Linked DNA regions of Homo sapiens: all the other regions are reported to be linked to region 1. The links are microRNA targets in miRTarBase. Many come from high-throughput screens and were not tested one by one. Region 1 holds a microRNA gene; each other region holds the end of a gene's coding sequence.
Evidence for each region. The annotated mature microRNA hsa-miR-4465 reads CUCAAGUAGUCUGACCAGGGGA and lies in region 1 at 2,590-2,611, opposite strand. An mRNA with a match to its seed (bases 2 to 7 or 8) in the 3' UTR can be bound and repressed. Matches are read on the target gene's strand: a 7mer-m8 pairs with bases 2 to 8, a 7mer-A1 pairs with bases 2 to 7 and ends in A, and an 8mer does both.

Region 2: the mRNA of KLHL15 is a reported target of hsa-miR-4465. Seed matches in the 3' UTR shown: 7mer-A1 at 2,608-2,614.
Region 3: miRTarBase lists UQCR11 as a target of hsa-miR-4465. Seed matches in the 3' UTR shown: 7mer-A1 at 3,748-3,754.
Region 4: the mRNA of ETF1 is a reported target of hsa-miR-4465. Seed matches in the 3' UTR shown: 7mer-A1 at 3,151-3,157 and 7mer-A1 at 2,822-2,828.

What each region holds. Positions count from the first base shown.
Region 1 is chr6:140,680,451-140,686,465 of GRCh38, reverse strand. It overlaps MIR4465 (microRNA 4465), which reads right to left and starts at 2,652; the gene lies at 2,583-2,652. The region is part of intron 4 of LOC105378027 (a long non-coding RNA gene); the gene reads right to left.
Region 2 is chrX:23,984,198-23,988,197 of GRCh38, reverse strand. It overlaps KLHL15 (kelch like family member 15), which reads left to right. Exons shown (of 4, transcript NM_030624.3): 4 at 1-4,000. The coding sequence ends at 277. Among named protein-coding and RNA genes, the nearest start is that of KLHL15, 41 kb to the left of the region's middle.
Region 3 is chr19:1,595,006-1,601,020 of GRCh38, reverse strand. It overlaps UQCR11 (ubiquinol-cytochrome c reductase, complex III subunit XI), which reads left to right. Exons shown (of 3, transcript NM_006830.4): 2 at 1,461-1,609; 3 at 2,806-3,852. The coding sequence ends at 1,581. Among named protein-coding and RNA genes, the nearest start is that of MBD3, 5.1 kb to the right of the region's middle.
Region 4 is chr5:138,503,914-138,509,928 of GRCh38, forward strand. It overlaps ETF1 (eukaryotic translation termination factor 1), which reads right to left. Exons shown (of 11, transcript NM_004730.4): 10 at 4,756-4,903; 11 at 2,182-4,474. The coding sequence ends at 4,392. Among named protein-coding and RNA genes, the nearest start is that of ETF1, 36 kb to the right of the region's middle.

The sequences.
Region 1 (6,015 bases):
TCTGGGAAAAGTGTAGAATGCAATACAATATCAAACTTTACTTTTTGGCAATAGTCAAAATCATAGCCTGATATATCATGATATAGTTTGAGCAGAAATGAATTATTGTGGAAACACAGGTAGTAGATGATAATTAAACCTATGATTTGCTAATTAAATTTTGATGTAAGTAGGGATGGTTGTCCACATTATGACATAAGGCAAAATGTACATAAAAATCCCTTAGAAAAATCTTGGTGCTTTTATTTTTACCCAAGTAATCTTTTCTTTAATCTGTAAGACTACTATGATGGATTACTATGATATCCTTTTAGCTAGAAAGAAATCTAAGTTGGAACGGTATTAAATTTATTATAAGTAAAATAAAAATGAGCATTCTTCTCTGCATTAATTTTTATTGGAAAGTTCATGTTCTATCATTAATACATCTTTACTAAATACAACATTTATTGAGTATTCATAGAGTGAATATTATTCTATCATTTACTCTAAAATTTGATCAGGAATGGTGGCTCACACCTGTAATCCTAGCACTTTGGGAGGCTGAAGTGGGAGGATCTCTTGAGGCCAGGAGTTTGAGACCAGCTTGGGCAATATAGTGAGGCCTCATCTCTACAAAAATAAAATAAAATGAATTAAAATTAAGTAAAATAAAATAAAATTCATGGAGGTTTGTGGTTTTTTACTTCTTTTGGTTGTGATTGTATGCATATATATAAATAAATATACATATAACATTCAAAGACTTTACAGTTTATTGAAAATCAGAGGGATAAAACAGAGGCAATACAACAATGCAGCGTAATTAGAATTATAGAATATAGAGCTTACAAATAACTTAAGGCTCCATCTGGTCATTATCTATAGTAACATTTCCAGAGAACTGAAATCAAAGTAGATGTAACTACACAATGGTAAAACTGTTCCAGTGCATGTCATAGGATAAATACTCCAGAAAACTTTAATGAACAAATGAATTGTTCACTACCTACTTAGCAAATAAATTCAGATCTCCTCTAAGTCTTAAGCTTCATTTTTTTTCCTCAAATGAATATATTTTTTAAATATTTAAGATCCATTCAATTTACTTTGGATTGTGTAACTGTTGGGAAATGACCTAAGTTGATATTTCCTGTGTAAAACAGTAACACTCTCATTTTTATTTGGATCTACCTTGAGCCATAAATAATATTGGAATCTGGAGAAATCCTGAATGACTTAGCATTTTACAACTTTTTTGTTTTTCTCTTAATTGAACTAGAACATGAAAAAGTGCCAAGGAGTGTATATAAAAGAAAGAATTATCACTCTTACGATTTCTGGAGATTGACTTCTTAGTTTTAAGAGAATTTTGAATTTTCTACATTTATTTTGATAATCTTACACCCATATATATGAGCATACCAAAGATTGTTTGTATGACCAATTTATACCCATGTCCCACTGCTTTACTGAAGTCCTGGAGTTTGCATTTGCATTGGCCCCAAGTAAAGGACAAATTACATCATGGCAAGCTGTACAAATAAAGCTTTTACAGCCATTTACATAAGGCATAGTAGGGGGGAAATTGTCACCAAATAGCACATGGTCTTTCAACTCTGAAGAACTCAACAGAACCTGTACTGTAGCAGTCAGTGTCATAATTATTTCACTGGCAGATGTGTTGTATAGATTTAATTTTGAACAAGTAATGATGATACTAAATATATAATAAAGGACTTCATACTCCAAAATTTTTTTGCCTTTTATGAATATGATTGAATTGATTGGATCTTCAAAATAATTCCCTGATAGTTAAAATTTTGAGTTTTTTAAAGGCAAAAATAAAGGCAACGATAACTACTATAATTTAAATAAGGGTCAAAATAAGAATGACAAAAGTGAGAAAGTATTGCTTCATAGTTTTAATTTCATTGGTAATTGTATTTTTTTATAAAAATTATAATCTATGGCATATTAAATTAATGTTGTTAATTTGAATTTTAGTGATTTGGTAGGAAGCTTTAGTATTTTATTTGAAAATGAAATTTAATAGATTTCAGAGCTATAAGTAAAATAAGTTTATATCTTATTTTACATAAAAATTTTATTTTATACAATTATATCAAAACATATATAAGTTTTGTTGGTATGTTTTTAGCTGATATTATAAAAATTGATACTTAGAATTAAAGTGTACTTATCATTAATTATTTTTTAGCTGAAAATGGTCCATAGATTAAGGAAGTTGAAAAAACACTGGGAGAGTCCTCATTATGGTTGCTTTAAATGTAGACCGACATTTGCTCTTTTGTGTTTCCTGCTGTTTCTTTTTTTTTTCATAATTAGTAGCAATAAAATGCCATAAATATTTTTAACAATGTGTATGTTCATTTCAGGGTTAAAAGAGAAAAGTAGAGTAAATAATACTTCCTTCTTTTTTGCAAGAGGTTTAAGGGGACCTATTTAGTGGCACAGGTAGTATCCATAGAAGCGAAATAAGCAAGTTATATGCTATTGAAACTAAAAACAAACCAAACAAGAGATACATGCCCCACTTGTGACGGAAATATGCTTGTGGGAATGCAATCAATGAAAAGCTCTCATGTGTCCCCTGGTCAGACTACTTGAGGTTCCATAGTAAACCTCAAATAGCGTGCCAGGGGACACATGAGAGCTTGGGCTAGACCAGAGCAGGGCTGTCTAAGAAACGAACTTGACAAATTCAACTGTAACATCCTTTGTAGGCAGCACTACCAACCGTGGTACCTCCTGGACATCTCTCCAGCATAAGGAGCAAGGCAAGCCCTCTTTTCTCAAGGCTTTTATTCTCTCAGCCACGCCTTCACCCCCATTCCCTTCCCAACCCCACACACATAGAACAAAACTTAAAAGAACAAAAATTGCATCCTCTTCTAGAAATGGTAAAACTAGAGAATTTTTTCTGGATGCAGTTTGTTAAATTCAACATATTTTGCTAGATAACGATTTTACCTCTTTAATTAACACAGATAAATGATCTATTACTATTGCTTTCTTCTAGGCTTGTGCCATATGTGTAATATTAGACACTATATCTAATAACAATAAAATGTCGGAAGGGTTGCATGTTTGTCTTGCTATTAGAGATTTTGTCTAATATTACATACATATATATGTGTGTATGTAATTATATATAGAGAGAATATATATTTATATAGATAACATATATCTATAGAGATATATAGAGAACATATATCTCTATATCTATAGAGATATGTAGAGAACATATATCTCTATATCGATAGAGATATGTAGAGAACATATATCTCTATATCGATAGAGATATGTAGAGAACATATATCTCTATATCGATAGAGATATGTAGAGAACATATATCTCTATATCGATAGAGATATGTAGAGAACATATATCTCTATATCGATAGAGATATGTAGAGAACATATATCTCTATATCGATAGAGATATGTAGAGAACATATATCTCTATATCGATAGAGATATGTAGAGAACATATATCTCTATATCGATAGAGATATGTAGAGAACATATATCTCTATATCGATAGAGATATGTAGAGAACATATATCTCTATATCGATAGAGATATGTAGAGAACATATATCTCTATATCGATAGAGATATGTAGAGAACATATATCTCTATATCGATAGAGATATGTAGAGAACATATAGCTCTATATCGATAGAGATATGTAGAGAACATATAGCTCTATATCGATAGAGATATGTAGAGAACATATAGCTCTATATCGATAGAGATATGTAGAGAACATATAGCTCTATATCGATAGAGATATGTAGAGAACATATAGCTCTATATCGATAGAGATATGTAGAGAACATATAGCTCTATATCGATAGAGATATGTAGAGAACATATAGCTCTATATCGATAGAGATATGTAGAGAACATATAGCTCTATATCTATAGAGATATGTAGAGAACATATAGCTCTATATCTATAGAGATATGTAGAGAACATATAGCTCTATATCTATAGAGATATGTAGAGAACATATAGCTCTATATCTATAGAGATATGTAGAGAACATATAGCTCTATATCTATAGAGATATGTAGAGAACATATAGCTCTATATCTATAGAGATATGTAGAGAACATATAGCTCTATATCTATAGAGATATGTAGAGAACATATATCTCTATATCTATAGAGATATGTAGAGAACATATATCTCTATATCTATAGAGATATGTAGAGAACATATATCTCTATATCTATAGAGATATGTAGAGAACATATATCTCTATATCTATAGAGATATGTAGAGAACATATATCTCTATATCTATAGAGATATGTAGAGAACATATATCTCTATATCTATAGAGATATGTAGAGAACATATATCTCTATATCTATAGAGATATGTAGAGAACATATATCTCTATATCTATAGAGATATGTAGAGAACATATATCTCTATAGATATAGAGATATGTAGAGAACATATATCTCTATAGATATAGAGATATGTAGAGAACATATATCTCTATAGATATAGAGATATGTAGAGAACATATATCTCTATAGATATAGAGATATGTAGAGAACATATATCTCTATAGATATAGAGTTATGTAGAGAACATATATCTCTATAGATATAGAGATATGTAGAGAACATATATCTCTATAGATATAGAGATATGTAGAGAACATATATCTCTACAGATATAGAGAGATATATAGAGAACATATATCTCTACAGATATAGAGAGATATATAGAGAACATATATCTCTACAGATATAGAGAGATATATAGAGAACATATATCTCTACAGATATAGAGAGATATATAGAGAACATATATCTCTACAGATATAGAGAGATATATAGAGAATATATATCTCTACAGATATAGAGAGATATATAGAGAATATATATCTCTACAGATATAGAGAGATATAGAGAATATATATCTCTACAGATATAGAGATATATATAGAGAATATATATCTCTACAGATATAGAGATATATATAGAGAATATATATCTCTACAGATATAGAGATATATATAGAGAATATATATCTCTATAGATATAGAGATATATATAGAGAATATATATCTCTATAGATATAGAGATATATATAGAGAATATATATCTCTATATCTATAGAGATAGATGTAGAGAATATATATTCTCTATATCTATAGAGATAGATGTAGAGAATATATATTCTCTATATCTATAGAGATAGATGTAGAGAATATATATTCTCTATATCTATAGAGATAGATGTAGAGAATATATATTCTCTATATCTATAGAGATAGATGTAGAGAATATATATTCTCTATATCTATAGAGATAGATGTAGAGAATATATATTCTCTATATCTATAGAGATAGATGTAGAGAATATATATTCTCTATATCTATAGAGATATATAGAGAATATATATTTTCTATATCTATAGAGATATATAGAGAATATATATTCTCTATATCTATAGAGATATATAGAGAATATATATTCTCTATATCTATAGAGATATAGAGAATATATATCTATATAGAGAGATATATGTGTGTAATATTAGACACTATAATAATAATAAAATGTCTGAAGCGTTGTGTGTGTATTATTAGATATTATATCTGTATCTCTATATAGATACACCTATATATACACATATACACACATACACAGACACACACATACACACATATATATATTTTATTTAGATATATATAGAGAGAGAGACAGAGAGAGAAGGTTAAAAATAAATAGAAGTATTAAAATTTTTCAGGAGAAAGATTTAAAGAAATGTAATCCTAGACTAAAAGAGAGTATCATGGCCTCACTGATACTACTATTATTTCAAAATAAGCTAATCTTTTATGTGTAACTATGATGTCTGACTGTTTTATACTGAAGTAATACATCTAATACTGATGACACATATGTGTGTATGACTCTGTCATATTTATCTTTTCAATTTCTGTCTCATTTTATGCCTGACATATGGAGAAGTTGAGAATAGTTA
Region 2 (4,000 bases), not on the chromosome of region 1:
AGTATACAACCCAGAGACTGATCAGTGGACCATCTTGGCATCCATGCCGATTGGTAGAAGTGGCCATGGTGTGACTGTGCTGGACAAACAAATAATGGTTCTTGGAGGCCTTTGTTATAATGGTCATTACAGCGATTCCATCCTCACTTTTGATCCGGATGAAAACAAGTGGAAGGAAGATGAGTACCCTCGGATGCCCTGCAAGCTGGATGGTTTACAAGTATGCAACCTGCATTTTCCGGACTATGTACTGGATGAGGTCAGGCGTTGCAACTAATGACATCCTCCTCCCTAAAAAAAGAGGCAAACAAAGTATTTGTTTGCACAGAGTAATTAATTAAAACATATAAAGAAAAACCTCACCAGTTTTACTATCAAAGCCATTGGTCTAACATTGTAAGAATTTTTCATTCTGTGCTAGCATCCTTTTTTTCTTTTCAGTGGCCTCAAACTCATGCAATAAGTTAATTCTAAGTGCTAGCTCTTGAAACTACTTCCAGAAGCAGTTGAATAGAATGCTCCACTTATCTGGGATATTGATTTTCTGCTTTAAACATTTCTTTCAGATGTTAGCGTAGGAGTCATGTGTCTTCTAAGAGAAGACCCGATAAGTGTCACTGGATGTGATTTCAGTCTCTGTCTCTATCTGAAACCTTTTTGAAGATTTATTTCAGTGTATTTCAGTCTGTTATACTTTTTAGTTTTATTATTTAAAAGTTTAAAACTCTTGACCTTTTTGCATGGCTTTTTGCTGAAAATGCAAAAATATAAATTTTCTACAAAATTAACTTTTTATATTCAAAACACTATTTCTAAGCTGCCTTCTCTTATCCGCATTGTGTTAGTGAAAGCATATTCATACTCGCATACAACCTATAAATACACAAGGCACATCCCTTTTATGCGTGGTTAGGATTCTATATTTTTAAGCTAGTGCACTTACTTGCACACACAGTTCGCCATACTTGTTGAATTTTAGATGTAACGTCTTTTCACATATTAACATTTTTAGAAAGTTGAAATAACTGGAGTCCTCATTTGCTATCAAAGTAGCCTATCTTCAGTCCATACTGATTCAGTAATATTTGAACTCCTTATATTTCTGAAACATGTATGGTTATGAAAACTAACACTTTATATTTTATTTTCAAAAGTAAATGTTAGTGTTCTTTGTCGATGTATGTCTTTTCTTTTTGAAAATGTTTTTCTTTGCAGTCTGTTTAACGTTACCCTGTTTTTAGTGAGAATCGGAGTGGTATATGACAAGTTCTGGCCCTGCAGCATGCAAGCACTTTTAAAGAGCATTTAGGTAATACCAGACTCCTAAATCAAGGCCCCTTAAAAGTAAGTGCAACTCCCATTTTTTACATTCAGTAAGGCTGCTGCATTTGTTATTGAATGGAAGGTAGAAACTCTTAGAAAATTTGACCTCAGTTTTGACTTAGAGGTAAGAAATAGAATTATAATGTTACTGGTTTTATCTACTTGTTTATTTTGTACAAAATACCCAGCGACACTAGGGATGTAAGCCCTCAGTTTTTGTTTTATTTACTGAAAGCTATTAGCATGAAGGATAGTAACCACAAAGTTCAGAATGGATCAAGAATAGCTGTTTAAAAGCATTTATAATAAGTGTTTTAGGATTAGCTGCACCTTTCAACTCTTTAAATGCAGAGGAAAAAACATAGTTGACAAAGTTAAGCAAGAATAACCTGGGAGTGGATCATTGAAATTGATGCCATTTGCGCATGAGTAGTCTATATCTGATACAGACTAGATCTATACTGGCAAAACTTGCCAGATCTTAGAATATTGGTGCAATATTGCAATGCCTTCTATATGGCTGCTGATGTATAAATTTTCTAGTTTCACTTTGTTTGGTGTTTTTTGTTTTTTTGTTTGTTTGTTTGTTTTTTTGCTGCTGCCACCATTGAACATAAAATGGAAGTGTGAAGTCATGGAAATGTGAAGACTTTGGTTTTTGGGGGTTTTTTGGGCAGTTATTAGACATACTATGAGATTAAACCTGATCTTCAAACTCCAGAATTGGAGGCATTTGGGTTTAAGAAACCAGGTACATAAGTAGCTTTTGAAAAAACCATTGGCATTGATTTCAAAAATCAATAATAATCTTATTTTATATATGAGACTTATATTTTCATTAACTAGTCCTGTCATTTACTTACAGTTTCCAAACATGAAATTTGGTATCTTGTTTCCCATGGTAATATGGGTAAAAGTCTTTTTCTACATTTAAAAAATACATTATTTTATTTTTGAAAGTTAGGAATAAGTTAGCCATTTAATTTTTTTCTACATTAGTTTAGTGGCTTTGTATGTGTGCTATTTTGCTTTAAAGAAAATAACGTCTTCATTATTTTCCTCATTGATGTCTTTTGCTAGAAAAGACCAAGAAAGAGCCATCAGGCCAGGTATCCACATCAAAGCCTTTACACTATAGTGGTGGTTCTCTTTAATTGCTTAGATATGACTTCATGACCCTAGTCAGGGTGACATCTGGGCAAACATTTGAGTATTCTTGGTCTTCCATTTTAAAGACAGAGGCCAAGATCAAAGTTCATGTTTTGTAAAATTCGTAAAATCTTAACTTGAACTAACTCTGGGTTCAGCTTTACGTAAGTCACGTCGGACCTGATGTTAGCTGTAATCAGTTTTGAGCTTTAAGGATAGTTGCTGTTGCTTGGGTTCTGAATGTATGAGAAAACTCCCTGTTTATATGTAGTTCTAATTTAGGTTATTTTAAATCCATGATTAACTTACATTCCCTTTTAAAATTATGGTTTTATTGCTGCAAGAGATTTATTTTTGTTATACTAAACTATGGAAAAGTTTTTCATAGCATTTTTTTCAAGTTTATTTTTTGTGTGCTTCATTTGGAGTTTTTGTTTATATACATTGCGCTCAAAAAAGTAGTTTTTTGAAAAATTCAGTAAGATTTGAATCTATACAGTTTAACTGTTATGACCTTTATGCGTGTTGTTTTCACTTTATATCTCAAATGCCAGAGTTCACAAAAATAGCTGATCTTCATTAATTACATCTTAATTAGAACCATTTGTTCTCTTCCGTGTCTTTGACCTTCTAAGTTTTGATTTTAAAGAAATTCCTTGCACTACAGCCTTTTCTTAAAATGCAAGATTCTCACTTTGAAGGTTTTGTGTTGGAAGAAATGCTACTGGTTTTTAAAAAGCAAAGCTTAACTAATAGAATTATTAGCTTTTCTTGAGACAGCTTTCTGTGTCCTCATTACTCTGCTCTGTGTGAGTGTTACTAGAATTTGTGAAATACTGACTGAGCCCTTCACTTATCTTTTCTAAAGCAGCACCTTTGGACACCTCATTCTGGGAAGCCTGCTCGAGTCATAGTAAAGGACACACGCTTTATGTGGGGAGAAGTGGTAAAAATGGAGTTTTGTCTTAATTACATGAAACTAAGCTTTAAAATATTTTATAACAGATTATTTGAGCTGCATAATCTAAACATGTCAAACGTTCAGTGGGACTATTTTTATATATGTATATGTGGGTGTAGGTCATAACATTTCAGTTTATAATATAAATTGTTATTTCAGTTTATAAGCTATCTCTCAGAGGAGACTAGCTCTTTTGAGAATTCATAATTTAAAGTTTTAGACTGAAGTAAAATGCAACATAGATAATAGTGTAAATCAGATATAATTGAGGGCTATATGGCAGTAAAACTGCTAGTGCCAGTTTTCTTGTTTGCCTGTTATACATTTTTGATTTTTGTTTTTGTATTCTGAACATTTTGAGAGATCATATGTTTGTTCAATTACATTTAGAGTTGGTTTGGGAATAAATATCTTCTAAAAAGAGATTTATCTTAAAAATGGAAGTCCTAAAAATTAGTTTATCCAGAGTTTATAAAGTCAAATATTCAGTAGGCATAGACTGGAATAGATAAATTCATGGAAATCATATCCTTTCAGTACACCGTATAACTTCAATATTACACAAGT
Region 3 (6,015 bases), not on the chromosome of region 1:
ATTTTTGTATTTTTAGTAGAGATGGGGTTTCACCATGTTTCCCAGGCTGGTCTTGAACTCCTGACCTCAGGTGATCTGCCCGCCTCAGCCTCTCAAAGTGCTGGGATTACAGGCGTGAGCCACCACGCCCAGCCTCTTTTTCTTTTTTAATTTTTTTTGAGATATGGTCTCATATTTACCGAGGCTGGAAGGCAGTTGGTGTAGCCACAGCCTCTGCTTCCTGGGCTCAAGAGATCCTCCTGCCCCAGCTTTCCTAGTAGCTGAGACTACTGGCATGTGCCACCACACCCGGCTAATTTTTCTTAATTTTGTGTAGAGATGGGGTCTCACTCTGTTGTCTAGGCTGGTCTCAAACTCCTAGGCTCAAGTGAGCCTCCTGCCTCAACCTCCCAAAGTGCTGGGATTCCCCTTGTGAGCCTCCATGTCTGAAGCCAGTCTTTTGTCACTTGACCTCGGCAGTGATGCCCCATTGCTCATGCTGCGTTCTACTCATTAGAAGCCTGTGCCCGGCCGGGCGCGGTGGCTCACGCCTGTAATCCCAGCACTTTGGGAGGCCGAGGCGGGCGGATCACGAGGTCAGGAGATTGAGACCATCCTGGCTAACACGGTGAAACCCCATCTCTACTAAAAATGCAAAAAATTAGCCAGGCGCAGTGACGGGCGCCTGTAGTCCCAGCTACTCGGGAGGCTGAGGCAGGAGAATTGCTTGAACCCGGGAGGTGGAGATTGCAGTGAGCCGAGATCACGCCACTGCACTCCAGCTTGGTGACAGAGCAAGACTCCGTCTCAAAAAAAAAAAAAAAAAAAAAAAGAAGCCTGTGCCCAAGTTCATACTGTGCGAGGGCGTAAACGCCAGCAGGCGGGTTTGCTGGGCCTTCCTAGAATCTGCTGGGCCTTCCTAGAATCTGCTGGGCCTTCCTAGAATCTGCTGGGCCCAGGCAACTCAGGGGAGCTCTCACAGCACGTGCCGTGGTGGGCAAGAGCATGAGCTTGGAACCGGAGGCCTCGATCCTCGCCAGCTGTGTGGCCTCAGGTGAGGGCCTCGCCCTGTCTGTTGTTTGGTGTCCTCGCCTGGGAACAGGGACTGTGATGGCGGCACCTGCCTGAGTCCTGCAGCTGTGGCAGGGATGGATGAATTTCTGCAGACTGCAGCAGACCGGACCCATCATCATGGTGGTTGCAAACTTACAAACACCTACACATGCGCCAGGCCCAGCCTCCCCCCAGCTCCACTCCCACCCCAGCAGCCCCTTGAGCAGTTACTGGCTTCCTGAGAGCCGGCAGCATGGGCAGGGCCTGTGCTGCTGGTGCCAGCCCTCAGGGCTCACAGCACTGGGCGGGCACAGGTGCCAGGCCCGCACCTCAGCCATCACCGCTCAGGACGGGGGGCCGGGGTGGGCAGGAGAGGGTCTTGGAGAAAGGGTCCAGAGCAGGCCTGACCATCCCCTCTCCTCTCGCAGGGTCCCGACGGCCTACACATGGGGCGCTGTGGGCGCCGTGGGGCTGGTGTGGGCCACCGATTGGCGGCTGATCCTGGACTGGGTACCTTACATCAATGGCAAGTTTAAGAAGGATAATTAATTACACAAACCCTTCACAGACTGCTCTGGTAAGTTTCAGTGGGCTGCGGTGGGTGGACTGCATGATGGCCGGATGGTGGCCGAAGAGTGGGTTCTCCAGGCTCCCAGAGCCGGGGCGGCAGCCCTCACTGCTCCCCCTGGAGAGACCTGCATTCGAGAGTGGGGCCCTGGGTGCCCCTTCTGGCATCTCCGGCCCACGGGCACAGAACTGTCCGCCCCGCAGCCTTGGGTTGTGTGATTGGGGTGTGGGCCTCGCCCTCCCTCTGGACAATCCCAGTGAGTCTTTGAGGCAAACCTTGCTTCCGTCTCAGTGGGCACTGCAGCCTGAACTGGGTGGGGCCCATGTTACAGACAGAGGGGGAAGGTGGAGGCTGGCCCACAGTGGCTGGACACCCCATGAGCTCTTGGAAGCGCCTGTGAGGCCCTGGACGCATCCACGTGTTTCTCCAGCATGCCAGCTGCCCCCTTAACCACAGTGCCTGTGGCATCTTCCCAGTGCCCACATGACAGTCCCACGTGGCCGTGCTCTTACACCCCCATTTTCCAGGTGCTGGCCTGAGGCCTGAGGCCATGCCACTGTTTGAACCTGGGCCTCAGAGCCCTGCTCCGGTCTGTGTTTCTCCCTACTGCGTGGAGCCCGGGGCCTGTGCTGCATTGGTGTTCCTGCCAGGCTGCTGTCCTGGGCCACTTCCGCAGCCAGCTTCATATGGAAGGGACGTTTCTTTTTTTTTGAGACGGAGTCTCGCTCTGTTGCCAGACTGGAATACGGTGGCGCGATCTCAGCTCACTGCACCCTCTGCCTTCCAGGTTCAAGCGATTCTTGTGCCTCAGCCTCCCAAGTAGCTGGGACTACAGGTGCCCACCACTACACGCAGCTAATTTTTTTTTTTTTTTTTGAGACAGAGTTTGGCTCTTGTTGCCCAGGCTGGAGCGCAATGACGCGATCTTGGCGCACTGCAACCTCCACCTCCCGGGTTCAAGCGATTCTCCTGCCTCAGCCTCCCAAGGAGCTGGGATTACAGGCATCTGCCACCACACCAGGCTAATTCTGTATTTTTAGCAGAGATGGGGTTTCTCCATGTTAATCAAGCTGGTCTCAAACTCCTGACCTCAGGTGATGCGCCCGCCTCGGCCTCCCAAAGTGCTGGGATTAGAGGCGTGAGCCACTGCACCCAGCCTGGAAGGGACACTTCTACTCACCCTGCCTCGTCTGCTCTCCCTCCAGGTGCCTGGTGGTGCTAGCTCCTCCCACCTCAGCACCTGCTGCATCTGGAGCAGCCCAAGCCTCAGGATGGACAAGAGGAAACCCACAGCTCAGCTTCAGGCTTCTTATGTTTCTGAAAACAGCTTGGATATTTTAATGCACGTTGCATTAAACCTCACTGAAACCTGCTCCGTGCCCGGATGTTGATCATGCTGGTGGCTTGGTTACTGTGACTGTAGCTGGAGTGGCACAGGTGACCCAGGCGTCCTTTCAGCTCCAGAATGTTGCAAGTCTAGGAGAGTGTTCCAATGGCTGACAGAAACTGCCTATTTGAAATGGCTCATAAGTAGTATCTGCAGTGTGTTCATCCGTTGCTGCCTTAACAAGTCACCCACACGTAGTGGCTTAAAGCAACGAACATTCACTCTCTCACAGTCTGTGTCAGTCGGGGATTTGGGAGTGATGTATCTGGGTGGTTGTGGCCCAGAGTCTCTCATGAGGTTGCAGTTAAGACATCAGCCAAGGCCACTTCGTCTGAGGAAGGCTCAACTGGGGCTGGAGCCACTTCCAAGCCAGTGCCCTCACGTGGCTGTCGGTGACAGCCACAGTTCCTTCCCATGGGGGCCCCTACACGAAGCTGCTTGAGCATCCTCACGGCATGGCCTCTGCCTTCCCCAGAGCAGGTGAACCAAGGGAGAGGAAGGAGCAAGCCACAGTGCTTCTATGAGCCACCCTGAGAAGTCTCACGTGATCACTTCCGCCACAGCCTGTTTATCAAAAGCAAGCCCCCCAGGCCCAGCCCACGTGCAGAGGGAGGAGAATGAGGTTCTGTGTTTTGAAGGGAAGAATATCAGAATTGGTAGACATTTCAAACTGTCACATTAGGGATACAAAAATGAACAGGCTGGGAGTGGTGGCTCAGCCTACAATCCCAACACTTTGGGAGGCTGAGGAAGGGGCATCACTTGAACCAGGAGTTCAGTACTAACCTGGGCAACAAAGAGGCCCCTGTCTCTGATAAAAAGAAAAAAAATGAAAAAATAAAAATGAACAGGTATAAAAAGAGAATATGGTACAAAGTCACACTCCCTGATACAGCTGCCCAGTTTTTTCCAGCTCTTGCCAATCTCTGAGCCGACATTGCACCACTGCACTCTAGCTTGGGCAACAGAGTGAGACTCAAAAAAAAAAAAAAATCCTAGACATACTGTCTGCATACATAAGTGTGTTGATGGAAATAGCTATTATATCAGTCTGCTAGGGCTGCCATAACAAAATACCACAGATTTTGCATGGCTCAACCAACAGAAATTTATTTTACTTATTCTTTTTTAAAAGACAGTCTTGCTCTATCGCCCAGGCTGGAGTGCCGTGGCACGCTCTTGGCTCACTGCAACCTCCGCCTCCTGGGTTCAAGCGATTCTCCTGCCTCAGCCTCCCAAAGTGCTGGGATTAACAGCTGTGAGCCACTGCACCAAGCCTATTTATTTATTTATTTTTGGAGATGGAATCTTACTGTGTCACCCAGGTTGGAGTGCAGTGGCATGATCTTGGCTCACTGCAACCTCTGCCTTCAGGGTTCAAGCGATTCTTCTGCCTCAGCCTCCCGAGTAGCTGGGATTACAGGTGCCTGCCACCACGCCCTGCTAATTTTTGTATTTTTAGTAGAGATGGGGTTTTGCCATGTTGGCCAGGCTAGTCTTGAAATGACCTCAGGTGATCTGCCCACCTCAGCCTCCCAAAGTGCTGGGATTACAGGCGGGAGCCACTGTGCCCGGCCAGATTTTGTTCTGATTTTTAAAAAAACATTGGCCAGGGGTCTGTGCGTGGTGGCTCACGCACCACTGCACTCCAGTCTGGGTGACAGAGCCAGACTCTGTCTCAAAAAATATATAAAAATTTAAAAAAAAAAATTGTCTGCAGGCTAAGTGTAGTGGCCCACACCTGTAATCCCAGTACTTTGGGAGGCCACAGTGAGAGGATTGCTGGAGCCCAGAAGTTTGAGGCTGTGGTGAGCCGTGATTGTGCCACTGCACTCCAGACTGGGTGGCAGAGTGAGACCCTGTCTCAAAAAAGAAATTGTGTGACTTGAGCCCTGAATCTGTAGGTTACCAGACCCCAGTAGCAGTGAGCTTCCCCTGCCTATTTCTGTATCTGCTGTCCTGGTACTTAAGTCCCGAAAGGGAAGGCAGAGACTTCAGCATGGTGGCACTGAGGCCCTCGCCAGCCCAGGAGGTGACAGGAGCCAGACTGGCGGATGGGGTCCTGTGTTTGTTGCCACAGTGAGTCACTGGACTCCACTGTAAAGAGGAGCAGTCTCGTGGTCCCATCAGCCATTTATTCAGTCATTTATTTCTACCAGCATCCACTCGAGGACATTTTTTCTTTTTCCTTTTTTTTTTTTTTGAGACAGAGTCTCGATCTGTCGCCCAGGCTGGAGTGCAGTGGCGCGATCTCAGCTCACTGCAACCTCTGCCTCCCAGGTTCAAGCGATTCTCCTGCCTCAGCCTCCCGAGTAGCTGGGACTACAGGCGCCCGCCACCAAGCCCAGCTAATTTTTTGTATTTTTTAGTAGACACGGGGTTTCACCGTGTTAGCCAGGATGGTCTCTATCTCCTGACCTCATGATCCACCCGCCTTGGCCTCCCAAAGTGCTGGGATTACAGGCATGAGCCACCACACCCGGCCTTGATGACATTTTTTCTACAGACTATAAATCCTTTATAAACTTTAATTTTGTTGCTCAAGTTGTCCTCTCTGTTTGGCCATCGTGACCCCTTCCAAATGGGCTCCTGTGTGCACATGATATGTCCCGGGTCACTTTTTTTGTTATTGAGGTGAAATTCACATAACATAAAATTAACCATTTTCAGGTGTGCAATGCAGTGCTTTAATACATTCACACTGGTATGCAGCCACTGCGCCCAGCCTGGAATTGGCCATTTTAAAGACTATTTTATTGACTTACTTATTTTAGACAAGGTCTCGCTCTACCACCCAGGCTGGAGTGCATTGTCACAATCATAGCCCAATTTTAAAAATAATCTTGGCCGGGCGCGGTGGCTCACGCCTATAATCCCAGGACTCTGGGAGGCCAAGGCAGGCGGATCACCTGAGGTCGGGAGTTTGAGACCAGCCTGACCAACATGGAGAAACCCCGTCTCCACTAAAAATACAAAATTAGCCGGGCATGGTGGCGGGTGCCACCATAATAATCATCTCCCTTGCATG
Region 4 (6,015 bases), not on the chromosome of region 1:
ATCCTTAACTCTATACCACCACCTTGTGGTCACCAGCACAAACTTTCCCTGGCCACTTCCAGAGGACCAAGGTTGGGAGAGGAAGAACCATGAGTAGCTGCCATCCCAGTCCTTGCTAAGTGCCTTCATGTGCCTTACTCCATTTAATCCTTATTACAGGTGGTGAAACTGCTACTCAAAGACATGGAATAATTTGCCAGCCTCTCAGGTGGCGCCAGGATTTCTACCTCAGACCTCAGAGATCCTGCTTCCTACTGCACTCTCCTGATAGCTTCCTGGGAAGCTGGCTGGCACGGCACTTCAGATTCAGGGACTGCCTGATACTGTGAAGTCACAAACCCAGTTAACTGCAGAGCCAGAGCCTTTTTTTCTTTTTTTCGAGACAGTCTCTCTGTCGCCCAGGCTGGAGTGCAGTGGTGCCATCTCGTCTCACTGCAACCTCTGCCTCCCAGGTTCAAGCAATTCTTGTGCCTCAGCCTCCTGAGTAGCTGGGATTACAGGCGCCCACCACCTGTTCGGCTAGTTTTTGTAATTTCAGTAGAGACGGGGTTTCACCATGTTGGTCAGGCTGGTCTTGAACTCCTGACCTCGGGTGATCCACCTGCCTTGGCCTCCTGAAGTGTTGGGTTTACAGGCGTGAGCCATGGTGCCCAGCAGAACCAGAGCTTTTCTTGACTCCCTTGTTTGGTTCTGGGCTCTTAGCTAAGCCCCAGGTAAGCCTGCCAGTTTCAGGGAAGGACTCCTGGAGATGGCTGTATCTGAAACAGAATTCACCAGACAGGGTTTTAGACTTGATTTACAGAGAACCCTTTAGGTGGTGAATTGTTTTCACCTGTTATTTCTAGTGCCTGCTATTCAGCCACATCCTCAGCAACTTGCAGCACCCAAACTGCCACAAAACAAGCAAGTAACTGTGCCCTGCTTCCCTAGCTCTAATCGGATGCTCCCACACCACTTGGCTGTTCAGTTCCTAGGTCCCCTGAGACCCAGTCCCATCAGGGCTGGACTTGGCAGGCAGGAATCCCCTGGCATTCACTCAAGCTGGCAACAAAGGAGAAGCTGGCATGAAACTTAAATTCCACCTTGGCTCTCAGCCCTAAATCCACCGTGCCTGTCTGGGAGTGTCATGGCATGCGTCTTGGAGCCAGAGAACAAAAGATGGCAAGTGCTGCAGGCCCAGACAGGCAAGGACCACAGCCCATATATCCTGCACCACTGTGCTGCCTTCCAACAATTTTGTCTTCAAGAACAGCACCTAGACACGCATTAGGAGGGAAAATTACACTTCCACCAGCACAGGCATGTTCGCCCCTTCCCAGCTGGTAATTGAGTTTCGTCGTCAGAGCTATCACCTAGATCAGGTAAGAAAATGGGTGAAAAGTACGCCAAGTGCCATTACTGGTCAATTTTACTTAAAACAGTTTTCTCAAACCTGGAGAAAGCAAACCATGCACCACCTTGGCTCCTCAACTAGGCTTCCTAAACTACCAAAGAGGCTCTTTAAGCACCTCAACCTTGGGGGAAAACAAAGAAAACAAATCCTCTTCTGCTCTGAACCTGGCCTAGGAGCCCTGCTCCTCTGGACCAGCCCCTGACCTGCTTTTGGGTGGGCTACTACTCTCCTACCCAGTGTAAGGTATGTAAGATGAAGGAGCGTGGGAGAGAGAGAGGGCCCAGGCCTAGTTTCTGCTATTCCATCTGGACCATTCTATTATAGGACTCAAAGACAGATACAGAGAGAACTTTGGAATAAGGCCTGGGATAAAATTTTGGTGTTATCACTAAAGAGCTGCTACTTAACCTTCTTTTGTTCTGTTTCATCACCTGTAAAATTGGGTACACCATCTACCTCCATGGGATGCTGGGTTATGGGATAATATACTTAACATACCTTAAAAAAAAAAAAAAGCAAGATTCCCTTTGGCATGCATATAGAATGGGGGAGAATACAAATTAGTTTGGCCCCAGCAACCTGAACCTTCTTCTTCTAGCATAACTCTGGGATCATGACCTCAGAAAAACTTTGCATATACCTTTCCATAGACAAATGTAGTAAACACAACTCAAACCCAAGGCTGAAATGCTATTGGCCGTGACTAATCTGAGGTATGCCTTGGAGAACTGTCTCCACAGTTCAGGCCTTTCTAGACCAGTCCTAAAAAATCTCAAGCACACAAAGTATATTCTTAAATATGGTTTAATACTCTTCTCCATTTCTGTACATCACAACACCAAGATTTTGCTGCTTAGTATCTCTCTGCAGAGGCTATAGAGAATGCAAAGGCTACGGTTTTCACCCCCTCTTATATGTGTTTGTATGTGTAAGTGTAATACATATCAATATATATTGATACACACATCAATATATAATGCAATATATATCACCGAAGAGAACACATTGATTAAAGAAATACAAAAATTTGGCATCATTTCCAAACTTAAATAGTAAAAATAAAAACTACAAAAGGAGCTGCATACCCTAAATGTATCATGTGAAACAACAAGCATATTCAAAAATGTAAATTTACATCCAATTTCTCTGGTCTTGTCATATCACATCAGACCCATTTACAATGGCAAAACCCTAAGGTACTGCTGTGAAGAGAGCATGTTTGCTCGCTCTTGGGTGTTCTGCAAACAAATAGCAGAGCCCAAAGCAAAAAAGCCTGTTCCGGTGAAGTCTCCCACGTTGGTGAACACCAAATAATGGACTCTTCTCACAGGGGGTTGAGACATCAGGTTACACATTGACAGACAGTATTTGGACCTCAGAGTACAGTGTGAGAACCAGAAACTTTACATTTAAGACATACTCCCTTCATTCAAGTGAAACAGGATTATTGGAACGATAGGCAGGTCTGTAACCTGGGAACAAGGAGCTGGTTCAGACCAATAAAGCTACGAGTGACTGAATCAAGTCAGTAAAGAACAGCAGTCAGGCACTAAAGTGTTAAAAGTACCCAATTTGAAAACCAAATGCACCCCACTACCCTAGTCAGTGTGGAGGTGATACCAATTGACTTTTAAAACCTTTGGTCCTTCAAAGTCCATTTGGTATACTTTTTTCCATCGCTACCACTGGGCACGTACTATACACTTTGTTCAACTGTCACCACCCTGGGCACGCCATGACCTTGCATATCAGCTGGGTTCAAGTCTGACTTACAGCCCAGCTGTGAAGCATAAGCTTCAGGGTTTCAGGCCAACTTTTGGATCCAACATGGTCTTAAATCCATGGTGCCAGAAGCTGTGTCCCATCCCTTCCCACCCGCCCCTAATTTCTCATGTGAGAAGTGCTTGTAAGTCCCACATTTGAAACAGATGCTCCAACCCCACCAGGAGGTCAGGAGTTTATAATTACATGCAGTCATACATGTCTGTCGTTCCTGTGAAAAACCTTGCAGTTCATTTTAATAAATCAAAACATTCACATAATCTCATGCCATCCAACACAAGGAAAACACATCCACCTCCCTTTTAACAAGGATTGACCCAAGCAAAATAAAATCCTCTTTAAATTTCTTCGCTTCCACTTAAATTGCATGTTTTATTTCTCCCAATCCCAGCAATAGCACAGAAGCCCCATCATATCCATCCCAAACCGGTTTCGAGTAGGTTAAGGTTATAGGGACCCTTGTCAGAACATTGATACAAAGGGCTCCCAAACGCCGGGCACAAATGTGTCTGCAAACAGATGGAAGTAAACAGTGCACTGGCCCAAATGCTTCATGAGTCAGTTTGATTTTGCAATGCAATTTGCATCCTTGAAACTGCCAGTCTGGAGGGGGACGGGGTAGCGTGAGGGAGTGAAGTTGAAAGTGCCTCCTATTAGCTCACCCTTTCAACATTAAACAGAGACCAAGAGAGAAATGGTTCCAACATTTCACCACATATATTTCTTCTTACGCAGTCTAAGCTGAGAATGCCATGTAAATGGGTCACTGCGAAATGCAGCAATTTAATTTTTCTCCAATCAAAATAAGAAACAAACCAGTATGATCTCACTTCTATTAACTTTTGAAGGTTTACAGCAGTTAAAGTATTTTTGCTTCTATGTATGAAGGTTAAAAAAATCATTTTTTTTCATAAAATACAAGAGCAACCAATTTCACCATCCAGTAAAAGTAAAAACTGGGATTCTTTTTTAAATTAGTCCAAAGTGGCGTTTAGGAACTTAGTTGTAGGCTGCTGCGCTGACACCATGACAAACCAAAGTGTAGGGCTGGGTCTGGTTTTGTTTCGGTTTTCTTTTCAATATCCAATGCTCATGGATTAAGTTCTGGAAATGTTCCAATTGTAAGGCAGGGATCTGTTTGGATTCCACCATGGGTATGCTCCTTGGGTTGGATGCTGGAGGGTGAGGCACGTTTTGCCGGACCCATGTCGACTACCTAGTAGTCATCAAGGTCAAAAAATTCATCGTCTCCTCCTTGGTATTCCATTCCCTGGAAATCTACTCGGTACCGCAAGATACCTGGGGAAACAAACCAAAAGGTAAATTACCTGTGTTCATGGGATGGGCATGTGTGTAGGTGGCTGGTAAGGGAATAAGGGAAGCCCTATTCTCTTGCAGAATTGCAGAAAGCAAAGAGGTAATAATAAACATGGGTCCAAATTAGGAACCTGCACCTGCTGCGTCAATCACCTATCCCAGCAGATAATAAGCACCTCACCGGAAGCAGGGCTAGGGCTAGCCAGGAGGGACCTTGACCTGAGACCCTGGTTTTAAGTTTGGTTTGCTGATTTGCTACTCACCTCCAATTCCACCAAATCCTTTCACAAACTGAGACCCTTCTTGTGATTTATCTGTGACAATTTCCAACGTAGCTCCAAATTTTTTATAGTTGTTAGCAAACCATTCCAACAGGGGCATGCTCTCGATAAGCTCATGTTCCTGTCCGGTCTACAGGGATGACCATGAGATACAAAAATGGGGGATTAGGATATATGAAGGCTAATTAGTCCCTCTCACAGCCCCTTGCCCACCTATCACTCTCATCCTCCCATTTATAGGCATGTCTGTGTGTAAAGCTCTGTAAGTCATCTCTGGTTTTGATAACCTAATGGATATCAGCAGAGAAATTCGGATTATTTCAAACAACACTTCTCCTCAGGCTCTACCCTCAGCTATGAAATACCAACACAAAAACTCAGTGGGTATTCAGCTTATGATTCCTACTGTTGACTCTAGAAGTCAGGCTGTTGTAGTGTCTCTAAGCAGCACCCATTCAATGGCTCAGAAGAGACATTCCAGGACTGCTTTTGGGAGTGGCCTCGTAGAGAACAAAGCTCTCCAAACCAGAATTTGAGGAAGCTATCATTTAAACCTATCTCATACGGGAGGGTCATACTTTCAACTGTTGTGATGCACTTAGAGCAAACCAGAGAAGCCACTGCAGTGGAAGAGCTGATCAAGTGAAGAAAGCAGCACAGGTTTCACAGTGCAGGAGAGGCATTATGTAAATTACATTTTCCTCCCTATTAAATTTCAAGGATAATGAAATGTTTTCCTGATTGCTTAACTACTTAAAAACAAAGACAAAAACAAACAAACAAACAAAAACCAGGCCAGGCATGGTGGGTCACGTCTGTAATCTCACCACTCTGGAAAACCAATGTAGGAGGATCACTTGGGCCCAGGAGTTCAAGACCAGCCTGGTGAACACAGCAAGACCCCATTTCTATAAAAAAAATTAGGCTGCCTGGCATGGTGGCTCACGCCTGTAATCCCAGCATTTTGGGAGGCTAAGGCAGGTGGATCACCTGAGGTCAGGAGTTCGAGACCAGCCTGGCCAACATGATGAAACCCAGTCTCTACTAAAAATACAAAAATTAGTCAGGCGTGGTGGCGGGCGCCTGTAGTCCCATCTACTCGGGAGGCTGAGGCAGGAGAATTGCTTGAACTCGGGAGGTGGAGGTTGCAGTGAGCCGAGATCACACCACTGCACTCCAGCCTGGGTGACAAGAGCAAACTCCACCTCAAAAAAAAAAAAAAAAAAAAAAGGGAATGAGGGC